3 separate regions of the Homo sapiens genome follow, and all the other regions are linked to region 3. Evidence: fine-mapped expression QTL. A gene starts in region 3. Each other region holds a variant in brackets. All regions are shown on one strand. Distances are from middle to middle. Region 1 holds the start of LYPD3 (LY6/PLAUR domain containing 3). Region 2 has its middle 9.5 kb from the start of LYPD3. Region 3 holds the start of PHLDB3 (pleckstrin homology like domain family B member 3).

The links.
Region 1: its variant is fine-mapped to the expression of PHLDB3 in monocytes after LPS (Fairfax 2014, PIP 0.95).
Region 2: its variant is fine-mapped to the expression of PHLDB3 in whole blood (INTERVAL, PIP above 0.99).

What each region holds. Positions count from the first base shown.
Region 1 is chr19:43,462,295-43,467,512 of GRCh38, reverse strand. It overlaps LYPD3 (LY6/PLAUR domain containing 3), which reads left to right and starts at 1,905. Exons shown (of 5, transcript NM_014400.3): 1 at 1,905-2,020; 2 at 3,057-3,188; 3 at 3,744-3,914; 4 at 4,226-4,387. The coding sequence starts at 1,942. RefSeq lists enhancers at 3,153-3,684, 4,237-4,286, 4,317-4,376 and a silencer at 3,927-4,086. The variant GAA/A (reference allele first, on the strand shown) is at 2,579.
Region 2 is chr19:43,453,512-43,458,729 of GRCh38, reverse strand. No RefSeq gene overlaps it. Among named protein-coding and RNA genes, the nearest start is that of LYPD3, 9.5 kb to the left of the region's middle. The variant T/AGT (reference allele first, on the strand shown) is at 3,031.
Region 3 is chr19:43,502,632-43,507,812 of GRCh38, reverse strand. PHLDB3 (pleckstrin homology like domain family B member 3) reads left to right here and starts at 3,067. Exons shown (of 16, transcript NM_198850.4): 1 at 3,067-3,224; 2 at 3,681-3,907. The coding sequence starts at 3,695. It overlaps ETHE1 (ETHE1 persulfide dioxygenase), which reads left to right. Exons shown (of 7, transcript NM_014297.5): 7 at 911-1,094. The coding sequence ends at 963. RefSeq lists silencers at 2,871-2,930, 3,531-3,780 and an enhancer at 3,409-3,931.

The DNA.
Region 1 (5,218 bases), 40 kb after region 3:
CTGTTGGTTTCCTGGCCTTCTCTCTCACCCCTTCTAGAGTCATTTTCCTTTTTTACACAGAGTCCACAGTGACATTCTTTACCTTGTTTTTATTGAAGAATAACATACGTCCAGTGACAGGCCTGAGTCAGTGATTCTCAACGTATCTGTACACACATGCAGCTGTCACCTAGATGAAGATCGTGGGGGCTCCTCCCTGTTGCTCCTTCTGGGGCCATGCCCTCCCAAAGGTAACATGTGTTCTGATTTCTATCACCACTGGTTAGTTTTGTCTGTTCTGAAACTTCATATATATTCAGTTACACAGTATGTTTTGTTTGTTTGTTTAAGGCTTTCTAAACTCAACACCAAGTTTTTTCTTTTTTTAAAATAAAATGAGATGGGATCTCACTATGTTGCACAGCCTGGTCTCAAAACCCCTGGGTTCAAGTGATCCTCCCACCTTGGTGTCTCAAAGTGCTGGGATTACAGGTGTGAGCCACTGTGCCTGGCCCCAACACAAAGTTTTTGAGATATGTTGCTGCATATATCAGGTGTTGGATCTTTTCTATTGCTGTGTAGTATTCCATTGGCCGAACCAACCACTCTCTTTTGCCATTCACTTCTTTTTCTTTTTCCTTTTTTAAAATCATATATCCTACTCTCAGATCCATTTACTTTTTTTTAATTTTTAAATTTTTAAATTTTTTTTTTTGAGACAGGGTCTCACTCTGTTGCCCAGGCTGGAGTGCAGTGGCGTGATCTCAGCTCACTGCAACCTCCACCTCCTGGGCTCAAGTGATTCTCCTGCCCTACCCTTCCGAGTAGCTGGGACAGCAGGTGCACGCCACTGCACCTGGCTAATTTTTTTAAATTTATTATTTTTTTTTAATAGAGATGAGGTTTCGCCATGTTGCCCAGGCTGGTCTCAAACTCCTGATCTCAAGTGATCCACCCAGCTCGGCCTCCCAAATTGCTGGGATTACAGGCATGAGCCACCGCGCCCGGCCTCCATTTACTTCTTGATGGCTAGCTGCACTATTTCTCAGGTTGATCATATTAGGAAGCAAATCTATTATGTCCTCCAGCTCATTTAGACCCTCTTAAAGGTTCTCTACTATTCTCAAAATTAATCCAAATCTCTTGTCGGGGCCTCTGATGCCCTGAGTGTCTCGGCCTCTGCCTGACTCTTTCATCTCAGTTCCTGCCCTTCTCTCATGGACTTCTGAGCTCAGGAGCACTGCTCTCCTTTCCATGTTTGAATGGTCCATCCTACCTCCTACCTCCAGGTGCTCCCACGTGCTGTTCCCTCTGCTTGTAAAGGGCTGTGTCCCTCTCTTGACCTGCTCTAGCTGGCTACATCCTGCATGCCCTTGAGGTTGCATCTCAGATAACCTCAAGGAAGCCCTCACCGACCAGCCCCCACTTCTAGACTGCACATCTCCTTGTATCACTACACTTTTTCCTTCAGTGTCTTAGTCTCTTTGGTAAACACCAATTTGTACGATTATTTGATTAGCATCTGTCTCCCCCATCAGACTGTGAGCTCTGCCAGGACAGGCACTGGTTCTGTCTTCATCTCCAGCATTACCTAGACCAAAGCCGGGCACACTGTAGATGCTCATTTAACAGTTACCGAACACTGAATGTCGAGTAGCCCCAGCCTGTCTTTAAGCCCCACTACTCTCCCACTCCAAACACACACAGACTTTCTCCCGCGAGCTGTCAGGGAACCTCAGCTCCCACCCTTTCCCTCCTTGGCAACTTCACAGGGCAGGGACCGCTCTCCCTTGGATGACGCGCCTAGGGGCGGGGCCCCGCCCCACAGCCGACGCTGAGTTGGCCCGGTTGGGCAAGGCTGGGGTTGCCTGGGGCGAGGTTACTCATCCTGGGCTCAGGTAAGAGGGCCCGAGCTCGGAGGCGGCACATCCAGGGGGGACGCCAAGGGAGCAGGACGGAGCCATGGACCCCGCCAGGAAAGCAGGTGCCCAGGCCATGATCTGGACTGCAGGCTGGCTGCTGCTGCTGCTGCTTCGCGGAGGTGGGTCTGCTGCCCGGAGAGGTGGAGGGGGTAGAGTGGGGGCTCTTAGGGAGGAGGCTCCTCTGGCCCCGTACAGAGAAGGCTGTGGGAAGGATCCCCACATAAGCAGAGGGCACTGTGGGCAAAGTTCCCCCATCCTAAGCAAGGGAGGCAGAGGGAAGGGTCCTCCACCATGGGCCGTAGGAAGGGTTCCCCACCACGGACAAGGGGAGCTGTGGGCAAAATTTTCCTATCCTGAAGCTGCAGAAAGAAGTCCCCTGTTCCTAGGCCGGGCGCGGTGGTTCATGCCTGTAATCTCAGCACTTTGGGAGGCCGAGGCAGGCGGATCATGAGGTCAAACGATCGAGACCAGCCTGGCCAACATGGTGAAACCCTGTCTCTACTAAAAATACAAAAATTAGCTGGGCGCGGTAGCGCGAGCCTGTAGTCCCAGCTACTCGGGAGGCTGAGGCAGGAGAATCGTTTGAATCCAGGAGGGGAGGTTGCAGTGAGCCGAGATTGCGCCACTGCACTCCAGCCTGGCGACAGAGCGAGACTCCGTCTCAAAAAAAAAAAAAA[GAA/A]AAAAAGAAAAAAAGAAAAAAGTGTTCCCTGTCCTGGGCAGAGAAGCTGTGGGTAGTGTTCTCTCATTTGAGCAGAAGGGGGCTGTGGGAAGGGATCCCTCACTGAGCACAGTCTACTGTGGGAAAAGTTCTCCCACACACTGTGGGAAAAGTTCTCTCATTCTGAGCAGAAAACCGTGAGGAGGTATCCTTCCTACCCCGGGATGAGGGGCTTCATGGCGGGGATCGCCTACAGTGGGCATACAGGGCTGTCGGAAGGATGTGCCCACAGTTGGCATAGTGGGTGTGAAGGAAAAGGGTCCAGTGATTCCCGTGCTTCCAGATTTGTGGAAAGCTTTTCCCTACTCCTGCCCTGGAAAAGTGTGTGCAATAAGACTGTCTAATCCCGGGACAGAGGGCATGGGAAGGACTATTTCTCCTTGGGGGTGGACGCTTTAGCAAGGAGGGCTCAGGTCTATTCGGCTCCGCTCCCCCAGGAGCGCAGGCCCTGGAGTGCTACAGCTGCGTGCAGAAAGCAGATGACGGATGCTCCCCGAACAAGATGAAGACAGTGAAGTGCGCGCCGGGCGTGGACGTCTGCACCGAGGCCGTGGGGGCGGTGGAGACCAGTGAGTGGGGACCCCCGGGCCACGCACACCACTGCAGGCTCCTCCGGCCCAGCCCCGCCTCCTTATAGTCCTTTCTGGATCTGGCCACGCCCCTTTAACGCGGCCCCACCCCTCCCTTTCAGCCTGGCCGGGACCCTACGACACAGCCTTGCAGGCCAGGCCTTCTCTATTAACAATTACAAGCGCGAGGAGCAGAGAGTTGAGAACTGGGTGGGGCGGACGGGGAGAGCTCGGGTTTGGAACGAGGTCACGTCCTATGCACTTTTTCTGCTCCACCAATGAGACCTCCCCATCCCTGCCTGTCAACCAGGCTGTCTCCTCCGACTCAGCTCTTTGAGGTTCCGCCCCCGTTCCGTGACCCCGCTCCTCCCTGCTTCGGTCGTTCTTTCCGCTCTGAGCGGCTCTTTGGGGGCGTCCATCCGCCAATTCCTGCCTGTCGGTCCTGTGGTGTTGGCCTATTTGAGGCCCCGCCCCTCCCAGACCCTACCCAACTCTGGGCCACGCCCCATCTGAGACCACGCCCACAGCTAATCCCGCCCTTGTCCCTCTCCCTAGTCCACGGACAATTCTCGCTGGCAGTGCGGGGTTGCGGTTCGGGACTCCCCGGCAAGAATGACCGCGGCCTGGATCTTCACGGGCTTCTGGCGTTCATCCAGCTGCAGCAATGCGCTCAGGATCGCTGCAACGCCAAGCTCAACCTCACCTCGCGGGCGCTCGACCCGGCAGGTCCGTGGGGGCCGGGCCGTAGCTGCGGGGGCGGAGCCACATTCGGGCCTGCCAAGATAGAGGTGGAGCCGTGGCAGAGGCGGGAGTACTCGACCTGGGCTGGGGGTGGGGTCACACTCTGGGGCGGGGCCAAGAGGCAGCAGGAGGGACTTTCTGGCTGTAGGCGCCGCGAGGTTGCGCGCTGGGGCGGGGCTACTAGTAGGCGGGGTCATCGATAGTGCCGGGGCCAGGCCTTAGGGGCGGGGCTAGAGGACGAGCTGCGGTTCCCGAACCCTTTCGACACCTTTTCTTCCTCTCGGCTCCCCTCGCAGGTAATGAGAGTGCATACCCGCCCAACGGCGTGGAGTGCTACAGCTGTGTGGGCCTGAGCCGGGAGGCGTGCCAGGGTACATCGCCGCCGGTCGTGAGCTGCTACAACGCCAGCGATCATGTCTACAAGGGCTGCTTCGACGGCAACGTCACCTTGACGGCAGGTGAGGGAGCCCCGGAGCACGGGACCTACGGGAGTTGTGGTAGCCCTTCTGAAGCACCCTGGGCGGTAGGGAGCCCTTTACCCAAAGCGTTTCCTTAACCTGCGACGCATTCTGGGAATCGTGGGGCCTAGGTGCTTGTATCGTAGGGCATCATGGAAAATGCAGTCCCTTCCCCCAACATATTAATAGTGTGGGGATAGTGATGCTTTGTCCCAGAGTGTTTTGGAGGGAAATGCATTTCCATAGAGGGCTGCCAGGTACTTAAGAGGTATTTAAGCCTCTAAGCTTCTGCCCAGGCACTGCGGGGAATCTCTAGTTCTTAGCCCTTAAAACTCAAGGGGTCCCCCGCCTGTCCCAGACTATTGAGAAATGTAACCATGGAAAATGAAGTTCTTCAAATCCCATCCCCTGCCAGTTATGCTATGGAAGATGTAGTTCTTTTTTATTTTATTATTACTATTTTTTTTTAAAGACAGCATCTTGCTCTATCGCCTAGCCTGGAGTGTAGTGGCGCAATCATAGCTCACTGCAGCCTCTACCTCTTGGGCTCAAGCAGTCCTCCCGCCTCAGCCTCCCAAGTAGCTGGGACTACAGGGTGCACCGCCACGACTGGTTCCTTTTATTTTTGGTAACAGTGGGGTCTTGCCATGTTACCCAGGCTGGTATTGAACTCTTGGGCTAAGAGATCCCCCTGCCTAGGTCTCCCAGAGTGCTGGGATTACAGCCGTGAACCACTGAGCCTGGTGTGGAGATGTAACTCTGACTCTAAGAGTAAATTCTGATGGGGAGGTAAAAGCCAGGGTGAAGGCTAAGGGGATAATGGTGAGAGGG
Region 2 (5,218 bases), 49 kb after region 3:
AATCAGGGCTAGAGAGGTTAAGAAACTTGCCCCACGTCACTCAGCTATTAAGCAGTGGAGCTCGGATTTGAACACGGGCAGGTCAGCTTTACAGAGTGTACCAACACTGCCATAATGTTTCCCTCAGCTTGACTAAACTTTAGACAGGCTTCCTCCTGCCTCTAGGCCCTCAGAATCCAGAGGGTCTAACCACAGAGGCCCCTTACCTCCCTTTTCTTAGAGCATTTACTTGAGAAAACTTGTCATTGTAAATTATTTCTTTGTCCATTTGAGATGGATATAAACCTCTTTAAAAGTCTTGGCCGGGCGCGGTGGCTCACGCCCGTAATCCCAGTACTTTGGGAGGCCAAGGCGGGTGGATCACGAGGTCAGGAGTTCAAGACCAGCCTGACCAACATGTTGAAACCCCGTCTCTACTAAAAATACAGAAATTAGCCAGGTGTGGTGGCAAGTGCCTGTAATCCCAGCTACTCAGGAGGCTGAGGCATGAGAATCGCTTCAACCTGGGAGGCGGAGGTTGCAGCGAGCCAAGATCACGCCATTGCACTTCAGCCTGGGGGCGACAAAATGACACTCTGTCACAAAAAAAAAAAGAAAAAAAAAGTATCTTGCCAGTTGATAGCCCAGGAAATGGAGTCTCACTATGTTGCCCAGGCTGATCTTGAACTGGGGTCAAGCTATCTTCCTGCCTTGGCTTCTCAAAATGCTGGGATTACAGGGATGAGTGACCAGGACCCAGGAAACTATCTTTTTGAAATTGTAAACATAAAAGGAAATAGCACTCCTATCTCCCCCCAGGAAGGTGAGAGCCTAACTTTGGTACATGACTCAGCTCTCAGTTGTAAAATACCTCCTGTCATGAAGACAGAAGAAAGTTGCCTTCTCTTCTGGGTAAAGCCGATTAAAAATGCAAATGACCTACAATCGCCATTCACCCCAGCTCAAAATCCCTACCACTCAGCTGGGCGTGGTGGCTCATGCTTGTAATCCCAGCATTTTGGGAGGCTGAGGCAGGCGGATCCCTTGAGTCCAGGAATTTAAGACCATCCTGGGCAACCTCGTCTCTAAGAAAAATACATTAAAAATTAGCCAGGTGTGGTGGCACGTGCCTGTAGTCCCAGCTACTTGGGGATGCTGAGGTGGGAGGATCGCTTGAACCCTGGAGGCCGAGGTTGCAGTGAACCATGATGGTGCCACTGCACTCCAGCCTGGGTGACAAAGCAAGACACTGTCTCAAAAAAAAGAAATCTGGCTTCCAATGCTTTTTTTTGTTGTTGTTTGAGATGGAGTCTCACTCTGTTGCCCAGGCTGGAGTGCAGTGGCGTGATCTTGGCTCACTGCAACTTCTGCCTCCCAGGTTCAAGCAATTCTCCTGCCTCAGCCTCTCGAGTAGCTGGGACTACAGGTGCACACCACCACGCCCGGCTAATTTTTGTATTTTTAGTAGAGATGGGAATTCGCTATGTTGGCCAGGCTGGCAATATATTTACTTAGCGGATCCATCCCCCTGAAAGTAACCAATCTTTTGCAGCTGTCACTGTCCAGCCTTCCCATCTTCTTGGGAGGATGACCTCCTTATCCATCTTGGCCTCTGAAACCCATTATGGGCCCTGAGACTCCCGCTCCCCCACCGCAACCCCTCCAACCTCCTTCCAGACAGTTACTTGCTTGTGTTCAGGAGGAGAAGAGAAAAGAAGAGCTTAATGTGTTTCAAATATAATCAATTGTTTTGCTCATCTAGTTTCTACTTTTAAGCTCCTAGCTCTGCTTTCTGTTAAAAATACCAGATTCTGGCCAGGTGTGGTGGCTCATACCCATAATCGCAACATTTTGTGAGGCCGAGGCGGGTGGATCTCTTGAAGTCAGGAGTTTGAGACCAGTCTGGCCAATATGGCGAAACCCCATCTCTACTAAAAATGCAACAAAATCGGCTGGGCATGGTGGCTCACGCCTGTAATCACAGCACTTTGGGAAGTCGAGGCGGGCGGATCACCTTAGGTGAGGAGTTCGAGACCAGTCTGGCCAATATGGCGAAACCCCATCTCTACTAAAAATGCAACAAAATCGGCTGGGCATGGTGGCTCACGCCTGTAATCCCAGCACTTTGGGAGGTCGAGGCGGGCGGATCACCTTAGGTCAGGAGTTCAAGACCAGTCTGGCCAATATGGTAAAACCCTGTCTCTACTAAAAATACAAAAATTAGCTGGACGTGGTGGCGGACTCCTGTAGTCCCAGCTACTCAGGAGGCTGAGGCAGAAGAATCGTTTGAACCTGGGAGGCGGAGCTTGCAGTGAGCCAAGATTGTGCCATTGCACTCCAACTTGGGTGACAGAGTGAGACTCTGTCTCAAAAAAAAAAAAAAAAAATCAGCCAGGCTTGGTGGTGCGCGCCTACAATCCCAGCTACTTGGGAGGCTGAGGCAGGAGAATCACTTGAACCCGGAAGGCGGAGGCTGCAGTGAGCTGTGATTGTACCACTGCACTCCAGCCTGGGCGACAGAGTGAGACTCTGTCTCTCTCTCTTTCTCTCTCTCTCACACACAGACACACACACACACACACACACACACACACACACACACAGCCAGATTCTGTATAACTTATTAGACTGGACACGGCTTTAAAGTGTTTTTAATGACAGCTCACCAAAACAGAAGTGAGAGAAAGAAGAAAAAGGACGAGGAGAAAGAAAGGGAAGAGAGAGTGAGAGGGTTTAGCCGTACGAAAAGCCACAGAGGGGGAAAGTTACAAAATCTCTTTCCTGTATTTTTTCCAAGGTTTGATGTCTGAGGTCCATGTGTGAGAAATTGATTTCAGCCTCTTTTTCAGGGCTTGCTGGGGACAAGGCAGGTGTGACAAGGGGCAGGGTGGATCTGCCTGAACTGGCCTTGCTGGTTTCTCTTCTTCCTGGGTTTGTGTGTTTTTAACGAAGGGCTTGTTTAATTTTAATTACATAAGCAAGACATGACTATCTTCTTGCTGTCAAACATTAAAAAAATACAGAGACAGCAAGAGAGAGAGAGAGAGAGAG[T/AGT]GCTCAAAAAGCCCTTTTGAGAAATGGTTGGTCAATCAGTTGCAGGGGAGGGAAATTGGGGTGCAATTTGGAAACGTCTTTCTAAATGACAAATGCAGATCGCTTCTGACTTGGCAGGTTTTTCTCTCAGGAATTTATCTCACATGTAGACATGGACGCCTGAGGCTGATGTCAGGTCTGCTCCAGGATGTTAATTGCAGTAGTGTTTGGAATAACAAAACATTAGGAATAACCTAAATGTTTATCAGGAGGGAACTGGTTATGCTTATGATGGTGTGCTCACACAGTTTGATGCTTTATGGGCATTATAAAAATAAAATGAGCTAGGTGCAGTGGTTCACGCTTGTAATCCCAGCACTTTGGGAGGCCGAGGCGGGTGGATCACCTGAGGTCAGGAGTTCAAGACCATCCTGGCCAACATGGCGAAACCCCCTCTCTACTAAAAATACAAAAAGTAGCTGGGCGTGGTGGTGGGTGCCTGTAATCCCAGCTACTTGGGAGGCAAGGCAGGAGAATTGCTTGAACCCAGGAGGTGGAGGTTGCAGTGAGCCAAGATCACGCCACTGCACTCTAGCCTAGGTGACAGAGTGAGACTCTGTCTCAAAAATAAATTAATTAAATAAAATAAATAAAACCAGGCACATCTATTTGTATTAATGTGGAAAGATCTTGAAAATAATGTTAAGTAAAATGAAAGATAAGATACAGAACAGTGTACCACTATTGTGTAAAAAAAAAAATCTGTGTGTAAATGCTTGTATATGCCTAGAACATGTCAAGAAATACCCACAAGGCAATAAATACCATTGCCTCTGGAAAGGGAATTGGGTGGCCATGGGATGGGGGTGGGAGGAAACTTTTCCATCCTTCCCCTCTGTGTGATGTTGGATGAGTCACATGTCTCCTCTGAGCCTCAGTTTCCCCATTTGGAAAGGGAGGGTCATAAAATGAGAGACTAGAGTTCTCCTTCCAGAGCCTGGCACACTGGAGATGCTTGTTGAAGAGAGGCTCTCCTGGCCGGGCACGGTGGCTCACACCTGTAATTCTAGCACTTTGGGAGGCCGAGGTGGGAGGATAGCTTGAGCCCAGGAGTTCTAGACCAGTCTGGACAACATGGTGAAACCTCGTCTCTAAAAAAAGTACAAAAGTTAGCCAGGCGTGTGGTGGCACGCGCCTGTAATCCCAGCTACTCAGGAGGCTGGGGTGGGAGGATCGCTTGATCCCCGGGAGGTTGAGGCTGCAGTGAGCTCTGATCATGACATTGCACTCCAGCCTGGGTGACAGAGCAAGACCTTGTCTCAGAAACAAAACAAAACAAAAAACCCCACAAAAACCAAACCAAACCAAACAAACAAAAAACAAGAACAAAGAGAGGCCCTCCTCCTACATCCATTCTCCTGGTCTGGGACTTCACAGGGAACTCACCCCAACTTTCTGCTTTTCCAGTGATGAAGAATCCAGTAGCAGTGACAGCCACTAGTCTATAGCCCATAGTGCAAGGGGATTTTTCCAACTCCCTGGCAATCTGGGGCAAGAAAGAGGAAAATCTTTTCCCACATCTCTTCACTTCCACCCACACCGTCGTTCTTGGGACCAACTGTGGGTTTTCCCTTCAGTATTCTCAAGAATCACTAGCATTCTCTCTTTACTGAGACCTCTGGGGGGAGTAGGATTGGACCACCAAGGGCTCACACTCACCCAGCCCAAGGAATGACCATGTAGGAACCCATCTCTGCTCTCCTTGCAAGGAGCCCGATGGCTGGGGTTCAAATCCCTGCTCCTGCTCTAGCTCGTGACTTTGGACAAGCCCCATCATCTTTCTGTGCCTCAGTTTTCTCATCTATAAAATGGCAATGGCTGGGTGTGGTGGCTCACACCTGTAATCCCAGCACTTTGGGAGGCTGAGGCAGTTGGATCACTTGAGGTCAGGAGTTCGAGACCAGCCTGCCCAACATGGTGAAACCCGGTCTCTACTAAAATACAAAAATTAGCCAGGCGCGGTGGTGTGCACCTGTAATCCCAGCTACTTGGAAGGCTGAGGCAGGAGAATTGCTTGAACCTGGGAGGCAGAGATTGCAATGAGTCAAGATTGCACCATTGCACTCCAGCCTGGGTGACAAGAGCGAGACTCCGTCTCAAAAATAACTAAATTAAAAAATGTGGTTGCTAGAAAAAAAATTTTTTTTTG
Region 3 (5,181 bases):
ACTCCTGGGTCTGAGGGAGGAGAGGCTGGGGGCCTGGACTCCTGGGTCTAAGGGAGGAGGGGCTGGGGGACTGGACTCCTGGGTCTGAGGCAGTAGGGGCTGGGGGCCTGGACTCCTGGCTCTGAGGGAGTAGGGGCTGGGCTGGGGGCCTGGGCTCCTGAGTCTGAGGGAGGAGGGGCTGGGGGCCTGGGGTCCTGGGTCTGAGGGAGGAGGAGCTGGGGGCCTGGACTCCTGGGTCTGAAGGAGGAGGGGCTGGGCTGGGGGCCTGGGCTCCTGGGTCTGAGGGAGGAAGAACTGGGGGCCTGGACTCCTGGGTCTGAGGGAGGAGGAACTGGGGGCCTGGACTCCTGGATCTGAGGGAGGAGGGACTGGGGACCTGGGCTCCTGGGTCTGAGGGAGGAGGGACTGGGGGAGGAGGAGCTGGGGGCCTGGACTCCTGGGTCTGAGGGAGGAGGGACTGGGGACCTGGGCTCCTGGGTCTGAGGGAGGAGGGGCTGGGGGCCTGGACTCCTGGGTCTGAGGGAGGAGGGGCTGGGGGTCTGAACTCCTGAGTCTGAGGGAGGAGGGGCTGGGGGACTGGACTCCTGGGTCTGAGGGAGGAGGGGCTGGGGGACTGGACTCCTGGGTCTGAGGAAGGAAGGGCTGGGGGACTGGACTCCTGGGTCTGAGGGAGGAGGGGCTGGGGGTCTGGGCTCCTGGGTCTGAGGGAAGAGGGGCTGGGGGTCTGGACTCCTGGGTCTGAGGGAGGAGGGGCTGGGGTACTGGACTCCTGGGTCTGAGGGAAGGAGTGGGCTCAGGACCAAAACTCTAGTTTCCTGAAGAGGAAAGGTTCCTAGGATTTCTGGGTCTCCAGTGGGGCCTGGAACTCTACCTAGGCCCCTTAGTTTTAACCTTGATTTCTTCCTTTCAGACTTTGCTGTTCCAGCCAACATGCGCTGTGGGGTGCAGACACCCACTGCCTGATCTCACTTCTGTCAGATGCTCCCATCCACTATTAATGCACTAGGTGGGAGGAGAGGGCGGCAATGACACTGCACCTCTCCTTTCCCACCGCATTCCCTGGAGCTCCCTAAATAAAACTTTTTTTAACGTGAGTCTGACTTCTACCTATTTTCTGGGGGAACCAATTGGGTTTCTGGGCCGAAAGGGGTGGGGTTCTGGTCCTATGGAGAGGCCAGGGAGCCTGCAAGATTTGTTTTCTTTTTCTTTTCTTTTTTTTTTTGAGATGGAGTCTCCCTCCATTGCCCAGGCTGGAGTGCAGTGGCACGATCTCGGCTCACTGCAACCTCTGCCTCCCGGGTTCAAGCGATTCTCCTGCATCAGCTTCCCAAGTAGCTGGGACTACAGGCGCGTGCCACCATGCCCGGCTAATTTTTTCATATTTTTAGTAGAGACAGGGTTTGACCATGTTAGCCAATATGATCTTGATCTCCTGACCTCGTGATCCACCAGCCTCGGCCTCCCAAAGTGCTGGGATTACAGGTGTGAGCCACCGCGCCCAGCCCGGGAGCCCACAAGATTTCTAACTCACAAGATCAAAAACAAACACAGCTATCTGGGGCAGGTCTTCTCATCACCTTGGATTAGAACACCGGCTTGCTTTTGAGCCACTTCCCACTTAGCCCTGGGGTAAGTTACTTCACTTCTCTAGGCCTCAGTTTTCTTATCTCTAAAATGGAAGGAATAATAATGGGGTGTTGTGATGCTCTGATGAGTCAATGTGTGTGAGTGCCTGGCACATGGCCTATCAGTGTTCACCATTAAAGTTACTATCATTTAGAATGATCTTTTGGGTACTTCCTGGCTTGTAGTGACAGTATACGCAATGGTTAAGAACATGGACTTTTGAGAGAATGAAGCCTGCATTTTACCACTTACAACATGTGTAGATGTTGGCTACATTTTTTTTTTTTTTTCTGAGATGGGGTCTTACTCTGTCGCCCAGGCTGGAGTGCAGTGGCACATTCAAGACTCACTGCAGCCTCGACCTCCTGGGCTCGAGATATCCTCCTGCCTCAGCCTCTGGAGTAGCTGAGATGACAGGTGTGTGCCACCACGCCTGGCATAATTTTTGTATTTTTAGTAGAGATGGGGTTTCTCCATGTTGCCCAGGCTGGCCTTGAACTCCTGATCTCAAGCAATCCACCTGCCTCGGCTTCCCAAAGTGCTGGGATTACAGGCCTGAGCCTCTGTGCCCAGCCAACCTTGGGTGCATTTGTCCTCCTCAGCTTGTATCCCCAAGTGTAAAATGGAGATAGTAGGCCAGGAGCGGTGGCTCACGCCTGTAATCTCAACACTTTGGGAGGCTGAGGCAGGCAGGTTGTTTGAGCCCAGGAGTTCAAGATCAGCCTGGGCAACCTGGAGAAACCCAGTCTCTACTAAAAAAAAAGAAATGGAGGTAGTAATCACTTTCTCGCTGGACAGCTTTGAGGGTGAAATTAAATGACTGGGTATAAAGTGTTTCACACAGCTCTTGACTTCTAATCATCCCTTTTCATATACCAGTTATTTTCCTGTTTTCATTTTCCTGTTTTCGCCCAGAGAGGAAAGGGTCTGGCTGAGACCTTTAACCTCTGCCCTCCACCCCATAGCAAAGTTGTGGGGGGGTGGCGGTACACTTCCCTCAGTCTCTGGGCAGGTGTCTGACTCAGTTCAGGGCACCCCTTCCCCTTGTCCAGCTCCCCAAACCGGTCAGGGCCCTTCTGAAGGGCTCATTAGAGGGGAGACGTCCCCATCTCCATTCCTGCCTTCCTTTCTGAACTCCCAAGGTCTGGACATTAGAGAGGCTCCCATACAGAGGTGGCCAAGACTCCTCCAGGGGGGCAGGAATGAGGGGCTCGAGGGAGACTGGGAGGTCGCGATGCTGAGTTCCACGAGGGTGGGGCCGGGCCGGGGCCGGTGGGGCCGGGATGGCCGGATGCCGAGGCCACGGGTGGGGCAAGCCCGTGGCTCCCTCCTCCCTCGGGAGCTGTTGGACCTGTTGTCCCCCCTCCACTTCCGGGCTGCTGGGGAGGGGGACCGGGCGGCCTCTCTCCTCCCTCTTCCCCTGCCACCTGTCTCATAGGCAGAAGCGGCCGTGCCCAGCGCGCAGAGCGGAGCGCGCCGAAGCCTGAGCTCGTGAGGGGGCCGAGGCTGTGGGGAGGTGGCAGTTGGACTTCGGAATCTCAAGGACTCCGACTCCTGGCTTGTTCAGAGAAGGAGAGCCCCGACTCCTGGATCCCTGGGTGAGGCGGCGTGGGCACGGTTGCCCTGCACAGTGGGGTCGGGACTAAGACTACGGGGCTCCGGGAAGGATGGGGCGGGAGCCGAACTGCTGAGTCTCGGAGGGAGAAGATGGGTCGCTCTAAGCGAATCCAAGAGATTGTAGGGGGCTGCTGGGAGGGTACAAGGCCTGACACCTAGAGATGAGGGAGGGGAGGCGGGGTCGAAGAGGTCAGTAGGGGGCGTGCTACGACCCGGACTCAAATTCCGGTCCCGTCTCCGGTGGCGTGTCGCCTTGGAGCCATCAAGCCCCGCCTCTGGAAACTTCAGGACACGCCTCCGTAACGCTCAGTTCCATCCTTTGAACTCTTAGGCCCCGCCTCCTTGGGGGGGGGTCTCCGCGCCCCGGAGCAGACGCGAGCGGCGCTCAGCCGTCCTAGGCCCCGCCCCCGGAGCTTCTGGTCCCGCCCACCCCGCAGGAGTCCCAGCGGCCATGGGGACGCGAAGCAGCCCCGAGGAGGGGACCCCGCCGCCGCTGGTCCCGGAATGCGACGTGGAGGTCCAGCCCCAGGGCCATCCCGAGGAGTCCCGGGAACAGGAGGCATCCGAAGTCCTGGCGGAACCTTCGAGCCGCGGGGGAGCTGAGCAGCAGGCAGAGGAAGAAGAAGTGGGAGAAGGCAGCAGCACTGAGAGCAGCCGCGACGCGGTGAGGGGCCCGAGGGCGACAGCGCGGGGGGCTTGGACCGACGGGGACCCAAACAGGTGGCCAGACAGGTAGACAGGTAGAGGGAAACCAGAAAGACAGAGACCCGGAGACAGGGAGAGAGACCGAGTGATAGCAGAGACTACTGAGAGAGAGATACACCAGGACACGGAGCCAGAGAGGCAGAGGCACAGACAGACAGAAACCAGATACAGAGACAGAAACCAGATAGAGCCACGGGGAGGCCCCAAGAACGGAGATAGACCCAAACGGGCGACAGAGACAGAGAGACTAGTATAGAGGAACCAGATAGGTGGCTCACGCCTGTAATCCCAGCACTTGGGGAGGCCGAGGGGAGGATTGCTTAAGCCCAGGAGTTCGAGACAAGTCTGGGCAACATAGCAAATCCCTGTCTCTAGAGAAAAAAAAAATACAAAAATTGTCCAAGCGCAGTGCCGCGTGCCTGTAATCCCAGCTACTCGGGAGGCTGAGGCAGGAGGATCGCTTGAGCCCAGGAGTTGTAGGCTGCGGTGAACTATGACTGCGCCACTGCACCCCAGCCTGGGACAAAGCAGAACCTATCTCTAAAAATGAGAGAGAGAGAGAGAGAGAGAGAGAGAGAGAGAGACCAGATAGACAGACAGGAGAGACTACAGAACAGAGAGAACCAAACGAGTAAGAGATGCAGAGAGATCAAGAAGCCAGACAGAGACCCAGAGACATGGAGACTGAGAGACAAAGACCCCAAAAAGACAGAGACACAGTGAGACTAGAGTCAGAGAGAGGGGAATCGAGACAGAGGGAAACCCAGAAATAAATGGCAGAGATGCTCAGAGAAACAAATAGACAAAAACCTCGAGAGAGGGACATACTCCGAGGAAGAAAGATCTAGTGATTCTAGTGGACAGATCTAGTGGACAGATACCGAATCTGAGAGACTGGGGTCAGGTGGAGAGACAGAGACAGATCCAGGCACTACAAGAAAGTGACGCCAAGAGAATAGGACCTGATAGAGAAAAAGAAACACCTTTCATAAGTCGGCTTTACACCTGCTCACCCTCCATACGGTACTGCAAGCCTCTGTGGTCCGTGTGGTTGGGTGGTCACGGGACTTGCACCCTCCCCCACTCCGACCTTAAATACAGGGGTCTGAGGCCGGGCGCGGTGGCTTATGCCTGTAATCGTAGCACTTTGGGAGGCCGAGGTGGGAGAATCCCTTGAGCCTAGGAGTTTGAGACCAGCCTGGGCAACATAGCATCGCCCCCTCTCTGCCAAAA